2 separate regions of the Homo sapiens genome follow, and region 2 is linked to region 1. A link means that fine-mapping ties the variant in region 1 to the expression of a gene that starts in the linked region. Tissue or cell type: spleen. Region 1 holds a variant in brackets; the other region holds the start of a gene. All regions are shown on one strand. Distances are from middle to middle.

What was found. PIP is the estimated chance that this variant, and not a neighbour inherited with it, causes the effect.
Region 2: it holds the start of GPM6A, and the variant in region 1 is fine-mapped to the expression of GPM6A in spleen (GTEx, PIP above 0.99).

Annotation. Positions count from the first base shown.
Region 1 is chr4:175,995,373-176,003,525 of GRCh38, reverse strand. It overlaps a transcript of GPM6A not described here. Among named protein-coding and RNA genes, the nearest start is that of WDR17, 66 kb to the left of the region's middle. The variant G/A (reference allele first, on the strand shown) is at 4,017.
Region 2 is chr4:175,809,010-175,817,162 of GRCh38, reverse strand. It overlaps GPM6A (glycoprotein M6A), which reads left to right and starts at 4,899. Exons shown (of 7, transcript NM_201591.3): 1 at 4,899-4,972. The coding sequence starts at 4,936. GPM6A-DT (GPM6A divergent transcript) reads right to left here. Exons shown (of 8, transcript NR_125901.1): 8 at 4,974-5,303.

The DNA of each region.
Region 1 (8,153 bases):
TCCCATGTAACTGAAGTGCATTTACACACCCCTGCCAGGAGTATACCTCTTCCATTACGTGAGAAAGAGCTGTGCAGATGTTTATGTGGCATTTGAATGATATGCTCTGCATTTATCCATGCATTCTGCTAAAAATATTGTTATTTATTTTTCATATCACCTTTTCCCCATTAGATAGCAATGTTCCTCAAGGTAAGTAATCATATCCATTTTATTTTATTCTTCCACTTGCTCACAGCATAGATATGTATACTTTTGGGTGTGCTTTGCATGAAAAAGCTGTGTACACCTTGGGGACTGACTTACTGAAATAACTTCTCCAGTATGACTCTTGAAAGAACTAGGTCAATAACCCATAGAGTTATATAATTTTTTTTTTTTTTTTAGCTTGAGGAGACCTTAGAGATCACTTTTTCCAGATCCTTCATTTTACAAATTAGGAAATGAGCCAGGATTACAACTCATCCTCTCAACTGTCAAGCCCTGTGCTCTTTCAGCCTCATCAACTGCCTCTTGGATTGAATTGTTTATTTTCCAGGTGATTTCTGCATATTATGATGTGTGTGTGTGTGTATGTCAGGGTGTGTGCATGTGTGTTTGAGTGTATGGTTTTTAGAACTTTATAACCTTGTCCAATTACAGAAACATATTTTATGTAGAAGAAAGAGGAGATGACAAAGGATAAATTAAAGGGAGAATTTTCTCTTCCTCTTGTCTTTATTAATGTTATTATCATTAAGAAACAAAATGGTACACAGAAGACAAGGGAACATAAAATTATCATATGAAACCTGTCTTTTGGAATAATCTATTTCCAGACTCCACTTAGAGATCATTATCTTGGCTACCGAGTCGGTTGTGGGGTGCTGAGACAACGTGTGTGTCTGTAATGTGCATTCAATGTATTTAGGAGAGAGACTTTGCACGTGTCTCTAATGAAAGTGAAAGGGGGCAGGGTGGGGGCCTCTGGGGAGGAGACCCACAGTGAAGGGGAGGAAAACGGGCTTCTCGCAGAGGAGGCAGGTGGAAAGAGGGAGGGGTCTGTGCGCCCGCAGAGTCGCCAGGCGCCCTGCGAGTTGTCTCCGCTGGGAGGGGCGAGGCTGTCACTTGCCAGGGCGCGAGGAGCCTCAGCGCGGCTTGGAGAACTTGGCCCCGCGCAGCGTCTGGTCACTCGCTCTCCTCTGGGGACTGCAGAGAAGCAGGACCTCGGGCCATGGGTGAGTGCGCGGGCGGGCGCGTACACCTCGCCCAAAGGCTCGGCCTCGGGAATGGGCATTATAGAAAGAAAATGAATGTTCCTCGGCCTCAGACTGCGTCCTTCCCAGCTCTGTTCCCCCCGCGCCTGGCGTCCCCCGCCCCCCGCCCTCTTGTCTCCGGACTTTTTTTTCTGGGAGAGAGGCGATGGCGATGGGGTGGCACCTGGAGGCGAGGGAGGGTGCCCGACTGTTTACAGTGGGTCGGGAGGGTGGGGGGCTGCGCTTGGGCGCTGATCCTCTGCGCCGGCCCCAGGACCCAAGCCTGGGGGTCCGGTCTACCGTGCTGGGGGCGGTATTTGGGAAATAAAGAAAGACTAAGAGACCCAGGATCCGAATAGCGAGGCGATTACAGGGAGATCTCTGTCCTCCCGAGTTCCCACGTTTTCATGTTCTCTTTGGGGAGCAAGTTGAAACGGGGCACGAGAAATGGAAACTTCCTAAAACTTCCACTTTGTACAGGTTTGAGCAGAGGAAGGTGCTGGTGCAGGGCCAGACTGGGGACAATTTCTAGTCCCTTTCCAAACGAAGTGCCCATTTGCACAAAAGGTTTGAGGTTGAGGCTGAAGGCTGATTCTTCCTAAATTCCACCTGGGTAAACAGCGTGATTAAAAGGGCGTCCACACTGGCTCGGGTCACTGGACGGTGGAGTTCGGCGCAGTTCAGCTTCGCTCAAGTTTCCAGGCAGGGTCCGCTTATTCGGTGCTTAGCGGAGGCAGCTTGGAATAGCTCCAGGAATGTGACTGCGTGTGGCGGAGGGGAGGAAGAACTGGGTGTGAAATAGCCGATTCACACCCAGCACTAGGACGCAGGGTCCCACGAGTCACCTCGAAGAGCGAGGGAGAAGCTGGGGAGGAGAAAGCACTCGCCATCCCTGGACTGGCGTATCCACAGGCGCAGGGGAGATGCTGCTCTTCCGCGGTTGCCGACTGCGTTCAGCCCGCAGCCCGAGTTACTCTTCCAACCCCAGCCCGCTCACTTCTTCCAGCCAAGTCCACTGGGCGCCCCTCCCCCTTGCTTCTCCCTTGTCCTTTGTTGTGAGGGATTTCTCCAAGAGTAAAGGAGGCCTTGGGGACTGACGTGCTCGGGTTGAAATTCCTGTATTCCCACAGGCTCAAGGGTTAGGGGATGCTTTGACTACTAATTTCTGGAGTTTATAGACAGTAGCCAACTTGGAAGAAAGGAAAAAAGAGAAAGCTGAGGACATTTTTGCCTATGAATGTTAGCTGTGATCAAGACTTTCATAGTCTCTTCTTGCTTGACCCCTGGAAGTGTCTTAGAAGGACCCATTTTTAGGGCCTTTGTATAAACAGTGTTGGAAATGGTCTTAAGAAGGACTGTCTTTAAATGTTTTCTGAAAAGGAAGGAGTATTTTCAGGTTAAAAAAGAAAGATAAAACATTTTCCCAAGTGTGGCAGAGAGTATTTCAGGCTCTTTTTTTTATTTGGTTGTTAAGTGTTGTGTTCCATTGGAAAGACAGGTCCGGAATATTTTAAATTTTTCTCCTAAACCCAACACTTGCTGTTCTACTTGACCACTTGAGCCTATAAACTCTTGTTTCTATGCTCACACAGGAGAAAAGCTGTCAGAAATGGAAAGTCAAAATAATTGACTTGATGTAGTCTATTCATTAGCTGTATTAAAAGCATTAAAATGCCATTTGGATCCAACATAATAAAATGTCTAGAAAGAATTACATAATTTACCCTTGTAACCTCAAGCTCGAGAGGACTGGCTATCAAAGGTAAGGTATTCATAATTTCAAACTTAATTATTTTTAATTTCCATTTCCTTACTATAGTGAAAACAATTTGTCCTGGATTTTGCTTCAATGCCCATGGATAATTAACAATCATCCCTAATTATAGGAAGATTTTGTTGTGGGGGATGGTGTGGAGTTAACAGCTGAGTTGTCAGGATCCAAAGCTTGGTCTGTAACTCTTAGAAGTTCTCTTTCCTGTCTGTAATCTGACAGATACCTAAAATTTGTTTGTTCCTTCTACTGCCAGAAGTGGATAACATTTTTCCTGTTGTAATTGAGGTCACCAAAAACTTACGTAGTCAGGGGCCTAGTAGGACAGATTAAAAATATTCCTGAACTCTCTTTAGATGGAAGTAGAGGAAGCAAGTGAGGAAGCCAGAGGTGAGCGAAATAGAGAAAAGAGCAGGCCTGTAGCAGGGGAGAGTGACAGCATGAAGCCAGAACTCAGGACAGAGATTCAAGTATGCAGTCCAGAGACTAGGAAGAGCCAATAAGAGGGGCAAAGTGGGGAAAGCAGGAAGGAAGTGCATAGGGGAAATAGAAAACATTTGGCCACTTAAGGCCATATCTCTCCTCTTTCTTTTAATTTACTTATGAAAAATAAAACTTCACTACTCAGAACCTCTTCTATTTAGTGGTAGTAGGGATGGTAGGGAGTTTAGCATTAGAGTCCAAATGGCTAGGATAAGAGGGAAAAACAGCGTAGGAGAATGCTGGATTGCGCCAACAAATGGAATCCAGTTTTTTTGTTTTGTTTTGTTTTTGTTTTTTTCCTGGTATCATGAAAACCAAAATTTATCACTTAAAGAAAGGAAGATAGTGTTCTGGGGATGAATGTAGCAATCAATTCTCATTTGTCTTAGAAGAAGAAATCTGAACTCTAGCACTGTGGAAGAATGAGAGTAATTGGTTAATCAAACATTCTGAATAATTTATAGTCCTTCATATCCATAATGCACAAGGCTGATTGTAAAAAAAAAAAAAAGTTATTTGCAAAGTAG[G/A]CAAATTGCAATTTTGGCATCTCTTCCTTTTATTGTTTGATTTCCTCATTGATGTCCTCGGCTTCTCTAGGTATGCAGCAGGGCTATCCCTCCACTGCAAAATTTCACTCTGCAGAAAGGATGCAACAAAATAGTTGATACTAAAAAAACTGCAGGGCTAACACATTGCTAAGAGTATTTACATTTTAACTTTAAGATGAACTTTAACCTGCGAATCTCTAATTGTGGAATTTCAGGCCCCATTGGAAAGATAGGTCAGGAATATTTTTACATTTTCTCCTGAACACAACACTTACTGTTCTACTTGACTACATGTATATCACTATGAGACTACATGTATATCACTATGAGACCATTGATTACTGTTTTGTTTAAAAATGATGTTGAATATGATTTAGTTTGACAGATATTATGAAAAGTTTAATGGGAGTGGTACTGAACCTGTCTTGGAGGAATGTGAAACATTTGGAAAGGAAGTGGTTCTAGGTAGAATAAGGAGCTCCTTCTCATGGCAGTAAGGAGGTGTGTTTGGGGAACAGTAAGACATGGAGCTGGATTGACAGGATGGGATTTGATTTTGGAGAGCTTTTAAAAGCAATGATAGGAGGTAGGGTGTCATGGAAGGTTTTTGAGCAGGGAAGACATAATGAGATTAGTGAAAATGTTGTTTAAAACAGAATTAGTTGGAGAAGACAGATCCAGTTGTCACAGTAATCCTGGGATAATATGATATATGCCTAAACCAGTTTGGGAATAATATTATATGATATATATGATATGATAATAATAGAATATGATACATGTCTAAGCCAGTGGAACCGGAGAGCAAAAGATTGATGAGAGATAGGTCAAGTGAAAAATCTATAAAATTAGGAAATGGAGCAATAAGAGAATGAATAGAAGATTTTGTCTAGAAATTTGAAATCTTGAAGACTGGGGAAGCAGTGGGTTCCTTGATAGAATATTTAAAGGATAAACCCAATGGTTTACTTTCTGCATGTTTTGGACAAGAAATTAATTTCATATTTGAAATGTTATTAAGAAGTGATAGCAAGGCCGGGTGCGGTGGCTCACGCCTGTAATCTCAGCACTTTGAGAGGCAGGACGAGCTGGGTGGATCAGTTGAAGCCAGGTGTTTGAGACCAACCTGAGCAACATAGTGAGACCGTCTCTACTAAAATTACAAACAGTAGCCGGGTGTGGTGGCACACGCCTGTAATCCCAGCTACTCGGGAAGCTGAAGCACGAGAATCGCTTGAACCCATGAGGCAGAGGTTGCAGTGAGCCGAGATCATGCCACTACACTCCAGCCTGGACAACAGAGAGAGACTCAGTCTCAAACAAAAAGGAAAAAAAAAAAGAGGTAATAGCAAGACATCTAAACACAAATATTTAGTATGTTAGGAACACATAATGAGAATTTAATCAGAACACAGGAACAAAAAGGAAAACAAAGATGAAAGGGTTACCAACCTTTAGTGAGAGGAAAACCCATGAAATGAATTATCTATTTGAAAGTGTGAGTATAAGGAGTACTGGTTGAGGGACAGGGAGGGAAAGGATAAATCCTGTTTGATTGAAGAAGGATGCCAACTGCATGATACGTACTAAATGCCCCAACATAAGAACAGTGAAATGTGACAACTTAAACATTCCACATTAGATTTAAGAGTATACACATTTTGACAAGAGAAAAATATCCAATGGAAATATTTTGCTCTTACTCAATTTGAGTAACAATGGAGTTGGTTAAGTATCTGTAAAATTGTTTGCAAATTTAGACAAAAAATAATGACACACAGTATTGTCTTGAGCTCATACCTTTTTTTTCAGGAAAACTATGACACCCTCGAGACAGTTATGAACAAGGTACAAGAGCCAAGGTTTGAAATAGGAGAAGCAGATGATAATCCCTTATGCCTTTGAATGGGTCCTATAAATCTCTGGGATCCTGTTTCCTCATTTGTTTGATGAGAAGGTTGGGCAAGGTTCTATAAATTTATGTAGCTCAGCTCTTGATCCAGTAACTATTAGAGAAAAAAAAAACATGTAAAGAAGATAAGATTAAGCTATTTCCATTAAGCAAATCAAGAACACTTTTATGATGCTAGAGTACTGGATAATACTTTTGATCATTTGGCTTCTAGTGTGTTATTTTCCTTAGAAAATCACAAAGTCTGATAAGAGTCCCAACCTCAGCGGAAGAAGATAAAAGTCATGTTCTAAGCATTTATTGCTGCATAAAATGATCTCCCAAACTAGTGGATTAAAACAACAATTTATTATTTTCATTCACGGTTCTGAGGGCTGACTGTCTGCTGAGCAATCCTCATTTGAAGTCTCCTGCCTTGGAAGCCTGATGACAGCAGGGGATTCAGCCATCTGAAGACAGGATTGGACTGGTCGTCCAAGAGAGCTCACATATATATAGCTGGCAGTTGATGCCAGCTGTTGACTACGAGTTTATCTCGGGCTGTCCTGAAGTGGCTTGGGTTTTCCACAAAATGGTGGCTAGGTTTCAAGAGGCAGCATCCCAAGAATGAATGTTCCAAAAAACCCAAGCAGAAGCTGCAAAGATTCTTATGATCTAGCATCAGAAATCCCAGGACATCGCTTTTCCTTGATGTGAGGAGCAGCCAGCTCATACGAGGAAAGGAGAAATTGAGGGTAGCCGACTAATTGATCTAATTCCTAAAAGAGCTGTCTTGTTAAGTGTGCTTCACATTGGGTTTACAACTGAAAACTCAGCACAAGTCCTGAGAAAAACATGATTAAAGACTAAATTTTTAATTAGAAACATGAAGAAATCTAAACAGTCACACTAAAATTTCACAGCAAAACATTTGAGTGTGGAAATTCATGCCTGGGTGGAAATGTGTTGGTAGAATACTGGGATAAGCTCCACTCAAAATAGTTTCAAATAAAATCAGCTAATCTTCCTTATTTTCCCTTGAGTCTGAAGTTTCTAAGGCTATTGTAGGGTACTGTTCATTTTATTTAGAGTGGAGTTGGTCATAAACTGGAATGTAGGTCAATTAGCATAAATCCTTTGCTCAATATCCTCTTGTCACAATCAACTAGATGCTTTGTAGTGAACTGTTTAGGAGCTTGCTTTATTTTTCAAGAATGTGTTAGCTTTACAAAGTACAAAATTTGAATTGGTATAGTGTCACTAGGGGTTTCACCATACTTTTCTTTTGAAGAGATGTATTTAACTAAGGTTCCACTTAACAAAACTCTTCATGTAAATCTCCTTTTATTATTAATACTTTTATCTGGCAAAGTTAGAGCTGTCTCTGTGATTACAAAAAATCGAGGCCTTTCTCCCAGACATTTGAAAAACAAAGAAAAATTAGGGTAAATGAGATGGGTTGAAACTCCAGGACAGAGTTAGTTTCAACCTAGAAATTTTAGAGGCCTTAAAAAATATTAGCTCATTATTGTGTTTCAGCTTATTTAAGTTGAGGTCATTCTATTTTCAACTGTTTGACAAGAGGTGAGGAGACAAGGGTAAATACTGCAAAGCTGTGTACTCAATGCTCACTATCCATGCTATAGCAAGCAAACAAAGCCACATCCCAATGAGAAATGAAGCCTTGACCTGTATGAACGACATAACCAGAATAATGGAATAATGCGTTAATTCTAGAAAGCAGTATGATAAAACAAATTCTTTTTCAGTTTAAGATATTCGCTATTTATTTTAAGATATATAAGGTATGCTTAAATAATATACAGTAATAACAAAATAAATATCTCTTGCTAGTTGTATAAACTTTCTTATTGTAGAACCTCTAATTTTATTGCCTAGCTAAAATACCTTAAAGCATATATTAAATACTGATTCCTGGGTCCCAACTCCCAAGACTCAGATTCAGAAGGCTTGGGCTTGAGAGCTGGACCTGCAATTTTAACATGTAATCCGACTGATGATGAGGCAGGAAGTCTGGGGCATGCAACGAGAAAAACTGACTCCAGAATGCCTTTCTTTCAAGCTGACTTAGCCACTCATTACAGCTGTTATTCCTTCACTTGTATCGCTAATCGCTAATATACAGGCGTACCCTGTCTTGTTGCACTTCACTGTATTGTGCTTCGTAGATACTGTGCTTTTTTTTTTTTTTTTTTTTTTTACAA
Region 2 (8,153 bases), 190 kb after region 1:
TGTTGGCCGCGGGGCGGTGGCTCACGCCCGTAATCCCAGCACTTTGGGAGGCCGAGGCGGGCGGATCACGAAGTCAGGAGATCGAGACCATCCTGGCTACCACGGTGAAACCCCATCTCTACTACAAATACAAAAAAAATTAGCCGGGCGTGGTGGCGGGGTGTAGTCCCAGCTCCTCGGGAGGCTGAGGCAGGAGAATGGCGTGAACCCGGGAGGCGGAGCTTGCAGTGAGCCGAGACCGCGCCGCTGCACTCCAGCCTGGGCTTTGAGCGAGACTCCGTCTCAAAAAAAAAATAAAAATAAAAAAAAGAAAAGAAAATGTTATGAAAGTCAGTTTCTGACTTGGAGCTTAAAGCAGCAGACAAAGGGGTCCTTTTTCTCTGTCAAAATATAAGAAGATCCCAACTAAGACATTTCATTCTAGAGATAATGTTAATTCTGTGTCTGAAACATTTGACGTAGAATAAAAGGCAGTTTCTAAACCGTGTTCCTGCCTGTTAGTCCTATGCACTGGGCTAGGTTTTCATGATCTTCTTTTCCACATCTCCTCTCTGTTCTCTGACCCAGGGACTACGAACATTTTTCCCCCTCACTTTTTATAGTTAATGCGATATTTGGAACCACAACTTCTTTAATCTGTTAACTCTCCTTACTTGTCTATATTATGAACATTGTATCACAAAGATGACTGCATTACATAATAGAGGAATATGTCGATATTTACTTATTGTATATAATAATGTGTTTATCCATAAAGACAAGATGAAGTGTTAAAGGAAGCTCCAAATTAAGATTAAGAAAAATGAAAGAGAATTATAATGGTTTTGGATTGAGTGAGCTCACATAAGAAAAAAGTAATATACATTATAAACATTTCTTAGACAGTATTTGAAAGGGAAATCTGACTTGATAAAAATATAATCATATTTTTAACCACCTAGTTAACTTATATTTGTTTTATTTTATTTTTTAGAGGCAGGGTCCTACCCTGTGGCCCAGGCTGCAGTGCGGTGATGTGAGCATAGCTCACTGCAGCCTCAACCTCCCGGGCTCCCGTGATTCCCCTGCCTCAGCCTCCCCAGTAGCTGGGACTATAGGTGTGCACCACCATGGTTGGATAATTTGTTTTTTTAAAGTGTCTGTAATGGCCAGGTGTGGTGGCTCACGCCTGTAATCCCAGCACTTTGGGAGGCCGAGGTAGGCGGATCACCTGAGGTTGGGAGTTCGAGACCAGCCTGACCAACATGGAGAAACCCCGTCTCTGCTAAAAATACAAAATTAACTGGGCATGGTGACACATGCCTGTAATCCTCGATACTTGGGAGGCTGAGGCAGGAGAATCGCTTGAATCCGGGAGGCAGAGGTTCTAGTGAGCTGAGATCATGCCATTGCACTCCAGCCTGGTCAACAAGAGCAAAACTCCATCTCAAAAAAAAAAAAAAAAGAAAAGAAAAAGAGTAGAAAATATTTGTAGTGATGAGGACTGTCTATGTTGCCTAGGCTGGTCTCAAACTCCTGGCCTCAAAATGTGTTTTGATTACAGGCATGAGCCACTGCCTACAGCCCATATATTTTAAATAAATGACTAAGAGTAGAATGGGGCAAATACAATACGATACAATGGAAAGAGTATTAGATGAGGCATTTCAGTCCCCATAAGGACACATCATTGCTAGTTATTAAGCTTTATATAGTATATTTTATAATTAATAAAGCAAATCTACTATAATGTGAAACGATTTTCTTTTCTAACTAGTTTAAGATACTGGAGGTTCAAAATATTTTTACTTCCAATGAGATCCAAATTTTAAAAAATAATCTTAAAACCACCATTAGCAACAACAACTTGGCTGGGCTTGGTGGCTCACGCCTGTAATCCCAGCACTCTGGGAGGCCGAGGTGGGTGGATCACCTGAGGTCAGGAATTTGACACCAGCCTGGCCAACATGGTGAAACCAACCCGGTCTCCACTAAAAATACAAAAACTAACTGGGTGTGGTGGTGCATGCCTGAAATCCCAGCTACTCGGGAGGCTGAGGCAGGAGAATTGCTCAAACCCTGGAGGCAGAAGTTGCAGTGAGCTGAGATCATGCCACTGCACTCTGGCCTGGGCAAAAGAACGAGACTCCATCTCAAAAAAAAAAGAGAAAATCATCAACAACTCAACTGCCATCAAACAGGAGGAAGGGGAAAGGAGGAGTGCGTTTTTAATGGGCACAGAGTTTCAGTTTGTGGAGATGAAAAAGTCCTGGAGATAGCTGGTGGCCATGGTTACAGAATGATGTGAATGTACCTAATGCCACTGAACTACAGATTTAAAAATGATCAAAATGGCAAATTTTTCTTTTATATTTTACCCCAATAAATACTGAAAGCCTACTGACAGGTGATTGCTGTGAGGAGGCTATGTATGTGTATGCATCTCTCTTAATTCATTTGACGAGTCCATTTGGACTGGCTCTGAGGACTTTTTTGTATATTTTAAAAATTGGTACAAGTTGATGTTGACTTATGTTGGTAACAATTGTCACATGAAAAAGCCTGTTTTAGACAAAAAGTGAATGGTTATATGAGTGTATTCTGCTGCAAAATTTCCAGAAGAAAAAGAAATCATGAATATTTTTAAAATTTCCTTTCCCTCTCATTTCCCTCTTTTGCTTTATATGTGTGGTGAAAAAGAAAGCTATGAACTGAGGCTGATTTCTGAAGATGCTGAAGATACTCATAAAGGAACAGAGTAGGAAGGAAAATTAGCTTCTAAGATCAGAACATTAGGCAAGAAATCAACAGACATGGGTTCTAAGACTTACTTGGTGATTTATTAGCCCAGTCTCTAGGTGTCCCTGAGCATCCGTGTTTTTTGTTTTTTGTTTTCATCATAAAGTGGGGAAAATTATGCTTTTCCCATTTGACTTACAACGGGTTAATGTATGTAATCATGTTTTATAGATTGTAAAGTGTTCTAAAAATTTAAGGTGACATTATTGTATCTACTGGCACTACAATAAACAATTGCTTTCACTAATGATTTCCATGGTATAAAACGAATGAAGGATCTAAATGAGGAGCGTTGCTCCGTTCTGTGTTGATTATATGCCAGGTTATGTCAGCCTAGGGATGAGTTGAAGCAGAGAGGCTGCTACAATTTGGCTTTTTGATTTCCCTTATGGTTTCTCTCTCTCAATCTGTGCACTGAGCAAGCAGCTCTCTCAAAAACCCTTGAATACACATTGATATATATTCCAAAGAGATAGGTTTTGAGTTATTTGAACTCCAGTTATTTTTGGACAAAATTCATTTGAAAAGAGAAAATAATAACAAATGATTATACAAGTAAGAGGACTAAACATTCATTTATGAGAAATAAAGTGGAATGCAGTAATTGTGTTTCCTCTAAATAGCTGCTTTTGTAATATTTAGAGGGTGATGTGCAGCATGCTACTGGCCTGCTTTAAAGAATGCATGTGAAATACAAGCTATAATGCAAGAAACGTATGCTATGGATAATGAGGATGTGAGCTATTTTTCATTAAAGGCAGAGAGTTACAGTTATGTCTGTGTGTGTGTCCTTGTGTGTGTGTGTGCCTCTCCGTGTGTGTGCTTGTGTGTGTCTTTCTGTCCCTCTGTGTGTGTTTCTGTCCCTGTGTGTGTGTGTGCTGGCTGATTTGGAGATGAAGACAGAGGCAAGGATCCTTTCTTTCTACTCTAGGAAAGGTTTATGCTCCTTGAAAGAGATACTGTTTATTTTCTTGCTATACCTTTTGTGAAGTATTGAGACTCTTGGACTGTGCCCTGTCACTCAGTAGGCTGAAGTACAAATGCTAATTATCGCCAGACTGCAGCATTGTGATTTGCATTCCAAATCAGCTTGCAGATTCCCATTATAAATTGCTATCCTCTTGTTTCTTATCTAAAATTTGTTCCTCCCTTACATCACTCTTCTCATTCCCTAACACTGACCTTTAAAGAAATTCCCTTTCAAGAGATTCTCATTGGAAACCAGCAGCTTTCGTGGGCTATAATCATAACAATAAATAACAAAGACATCAATAGGGTTTTTCCTTCCAGTGGTTTTCTCCCTTTTACTTAAGAGTCATATGGCACTAAGTAAAATAATTACTTAAAACATGTATCTCTCAGGCTTAGAGCTTTATACTCACTCCTTTGACAGCCACGCTTCTATTTCTTTTTAAATCTCAAAGGTGTGGGATTACAAGTCCTGTCTTAGTAATAAACTTTTGCAGATAAACCCTGAGATGGTATAACTGCATCCTTTCTTGGCACCTTAAATCAAATTAACTAAATACTTAGTGAGGAGAGAAAAGGAAAACACAGTTTTTTTGCAACGTATCTGACTGGGTGAGAAGCCACTGCTGCAGCATAAAGAACCGACGGGAATCTGGGCTTTCCCACTCTGGAATGAAGGGGGGAATTACGGGTTGGTGGTCGGCTTCATGTTAGGAGGACACCCCTCCATCTGTTCACAGCTCAGCCTGTTTCCAATTTAAAGCCCAGATTTCAATACAAACCTCAATTTCTTTTCCCCATTTTAAATGCAAAGCAAGACTTGTGAATCATAGTGTCTCTGCTCCTGGGATTCAGACCAAATTTCCCCCCAAAATTCTCAGGCTATTTGTTTGAATACCTGCTTACAGTGGTACACAATGGGCAGCTTTGAGAAGAAAAATTGATAATCTTCACGGAAGAGTAATTTGAATGAAATTACACTTGACAGCCTGTCTCCAAGCAAACAAGAGGAACGAGGGAGCCTGAGCTAAGCTCTGAGGACTTGCCCAAGCCACTGCTGTTGGAGCTTCCCAGGAAAAAAAAAAAAAAAAAAAAAAAAAAAAAAAAAAAAAAACCCCCAGTTTTTCCAACATCTAATTGAGCTTTTGATTAATTCCGTGTACCAGATTCTACTGAAGAAAGGTAGCCATGGAAGAGAATATGGAAGAGGGACAGACACAAAAAGGTACTGTGCTAAAAGCGTTTATTTGTAACTAAGTAATTATTTTGCAGTTTCCTTGTTTGCTTTAGACACTTGCCAGTAAGGCTAATGAATGTTTCTCTCTTGGAAGGCATTTTGTTCCTTCCTCTCCTTTAGTCTGTTCCTCACTTGCAGTAATGTCTGGCACGAATGTTGTCATTATTTGCAAATCTTTCAGATATAAGTACCGAAATGCAGAGTCGAGTATTAGTGAGAAGAGCATTGCGGTATTGTAGTGAACTATTCCTTAGACCAGTCTTTGTTAACCTTCATTTATTTCGTGATTTCACACTTGCCGAGCTGGGTCAAGGGATCCCTAGTGTGAGCCACAAATACAATATTTGGAGTTAGTTAAAAATTTGGTGATGGAACCATTATCCATATCTTTGCATGGACATCTGATAGAACAAAGACCAAGACCATTAATTATCTTTTGATTGGTGCACCTTTTTAAAACAATCTTTAAAAAATAAAAACTAAAAACGAGGATGCAATATAGGTTTAAGCAGATGGAGCAAAAGTTCATAAATTTTCAGGGTGTATGGAAGCGTTAAGATTTTCCTTTCTATATAGTTGACTGTAATCAACTTCTGAGTAATAATGTTAAAGGAAATTTTTTTATGTGTTTTTAAAGCTTGTCTAGGTATATCTGGCTGTATGAGTTAAAGTGAAATTTCCATTTTTGAAGGTTGAAATGGTCAAATATTGGTAATTTGGAATGATTCAATCAACTCGAGAATTGTTTTAACGTGTCAAATGGTAGCTTCAGAGGGAGCTAGCTTTCACCCCAGATAGGCAGCGTTTCTCTCGTCTGCTGTCGGGCTTATGTAATGTCAGAGAAAATGGTCTCATTTTCTTAGTACTGAAGCAGTAACACAGGTAATACTACATAAAGGTAATATTCAAGAGTAGTGTTGAAAAAGATTCAGCTGTCAAAGTTAATTTCAAATGTATATAAAGGCACTTATCGTAAAAAACTGTATTTTATGTGATAAAATATATAGGGTGGAAGCACAGTATAGTTACCATATTTTTAGCCATTTAGCTATGCTGGGTTTCTTCTCTTAATGTACACACACATACTTTGAGGCATATATGGTGCATACACACACACACACACACGTAATAAAGGACCATCGATATTAAATACATGAAGGTTTTATATAAGCAAGAGATAATAGATAAGTTGATTTCCCAATTTTAGTCCTTAGTACCCTTATTCATGATAATCTGTAATAGAAACACAAAAATCTACATTAATAGCATGTGATCTATTTTTAAATTAAAAAACCTCAGCTCCCTTTATTATATGCACAAATAGCCCAAGTTTTCATCAGTGATTGTAAATGGGACATTTTAATGGTAATTTCTGTTCTTACAAGACATCTCAGTGGACTATTTTAACTTAGAATAAATTACCTTATGACAACATCTTTTTTGTAATACCTAATAATGATACTTATTGGCCGATCAATTTGCTTAAGGAAAGATAAACAGCATTTTAAATAGAGGAATGATATTCATTACACTAAATAAAACCTTGAGTTAAATCATGGATTGTGGTAACAGGTTGAATGTGTCTGAGCAAGCCTTGGTAGATGCGGGAACCAAGAAAAATGATGTAATTAGTTGTGATGTTTTTTTCTCAGGTAACACTGAAAAGCTTTCTTTTATGGGGGTGGAGGTGGCTATGCCGTGAGGGGAAGATTTCTGTCACAGTGGGTTTTTCCTCATTAATATATGCACCAGCAGCAGTGGTGGAAAGCAGTTTTAAATCAGAAAAAACGTTTAGTGGTCTATCAGTTTGTAAATGTATATGAATACAATATTTATGATTTAGGTTTTTTTCTTAATTGAGAAAAGAAGATGTAATTTTCTTCACTCTTGATCTTCTGTTCCTCTCAATTACGCCTATGACACCTTTTCTATATAAGTTTGTTGTTAGAAAGTTACATTTGAATCGAAATGCTCTGTCGATATGTGCGTGGGTTGTAACTGTGAAATTACTGGAGGAGCAATTTGACAAGCAGACAAAATCGTTACAGATTTTTCAAGAGTTTAGGTGGAGAGACTTAATGATCTGTCTAAAGAAAAGCAGCATTTTGTGTTAGTTCTTATCCTGTTTTTCTTAAACTGCATAGGATTTTCTTAAACAATAATTCAAATAGCACAGAGTTTTCTTCCATTTGCAAGAAGTAAGTGGCTTTTCAGTCTTTTCTTAAAATTTAGACCTTGTCTTTCCTGTTACATGTCACCAAGACTTAAAATTCACATCAGTGTTTACTCATATGACCTTGCAAATTCAACTAGAAGGTAAAATTCAGTGGATTCATTAATTAATTGCAATTTGCTATGTTCGAAAATATATATACTTGGTGTTTAAGCATTTAAAAAGATCATCCGTCTTAAGAAATATATTTTTCTTCATAGTGAGAGCCCACTCCCCTCTCAAGCTTTAAAAGACAATTGAGAATAGTCCTAACTTTTATCCTAATTTAAGCATATGTGTTCAGTCAGAGAGAGAGGATAATTTAACAGTATGGGTGACTTCACCCACCAGCCATTGTGTTCAATGAGCCCATGCCTGATGTGAAACTGAAATGGGGATCATTAATCTGTTGCTCCAGCAATTTCTGACACCCTCCCCAAAAGTGAGTATCTCATTATGCTGAGGGGAATCTAGTATTTTAAGAAACATATTTTTTGGTAAAACATGGCCTCTAAATGAAAGCCACTTACTTCATCTTGTGTGCAGCCAAAACAATGATATTCTAGTATAGAAAAAAAAAAAGGAAAAAAAGAAAAGAGTGTTTTGAATTTGGTCTTTACTATGGCCATAATAAACCTAGCATCATCTGTCACCAAAATCAAGAGCCATTGTCACAAAATCATGGCAACAAGGACCCCAGTTACTACAGAGGGGTTGAGCAAAGTGAATAAAGATATTTTGATGAAGATTTAACAGGTAGGCGTTTATGACTTGTAGCCATGCAACTGTTTCTAGAACATTTTGCCAAATCTTACGAGAAAATACGTAAATGATTTTTGGGTTTCTAATTAGGAGTGAATTGGTGAATACACATTCGGGTGGCCAGACAAGTGGGTGACCATCTCTTCATGGACAGCCCTAATGAAGGCCTTGCTGAATTAGGAGGGCTTTACAGAG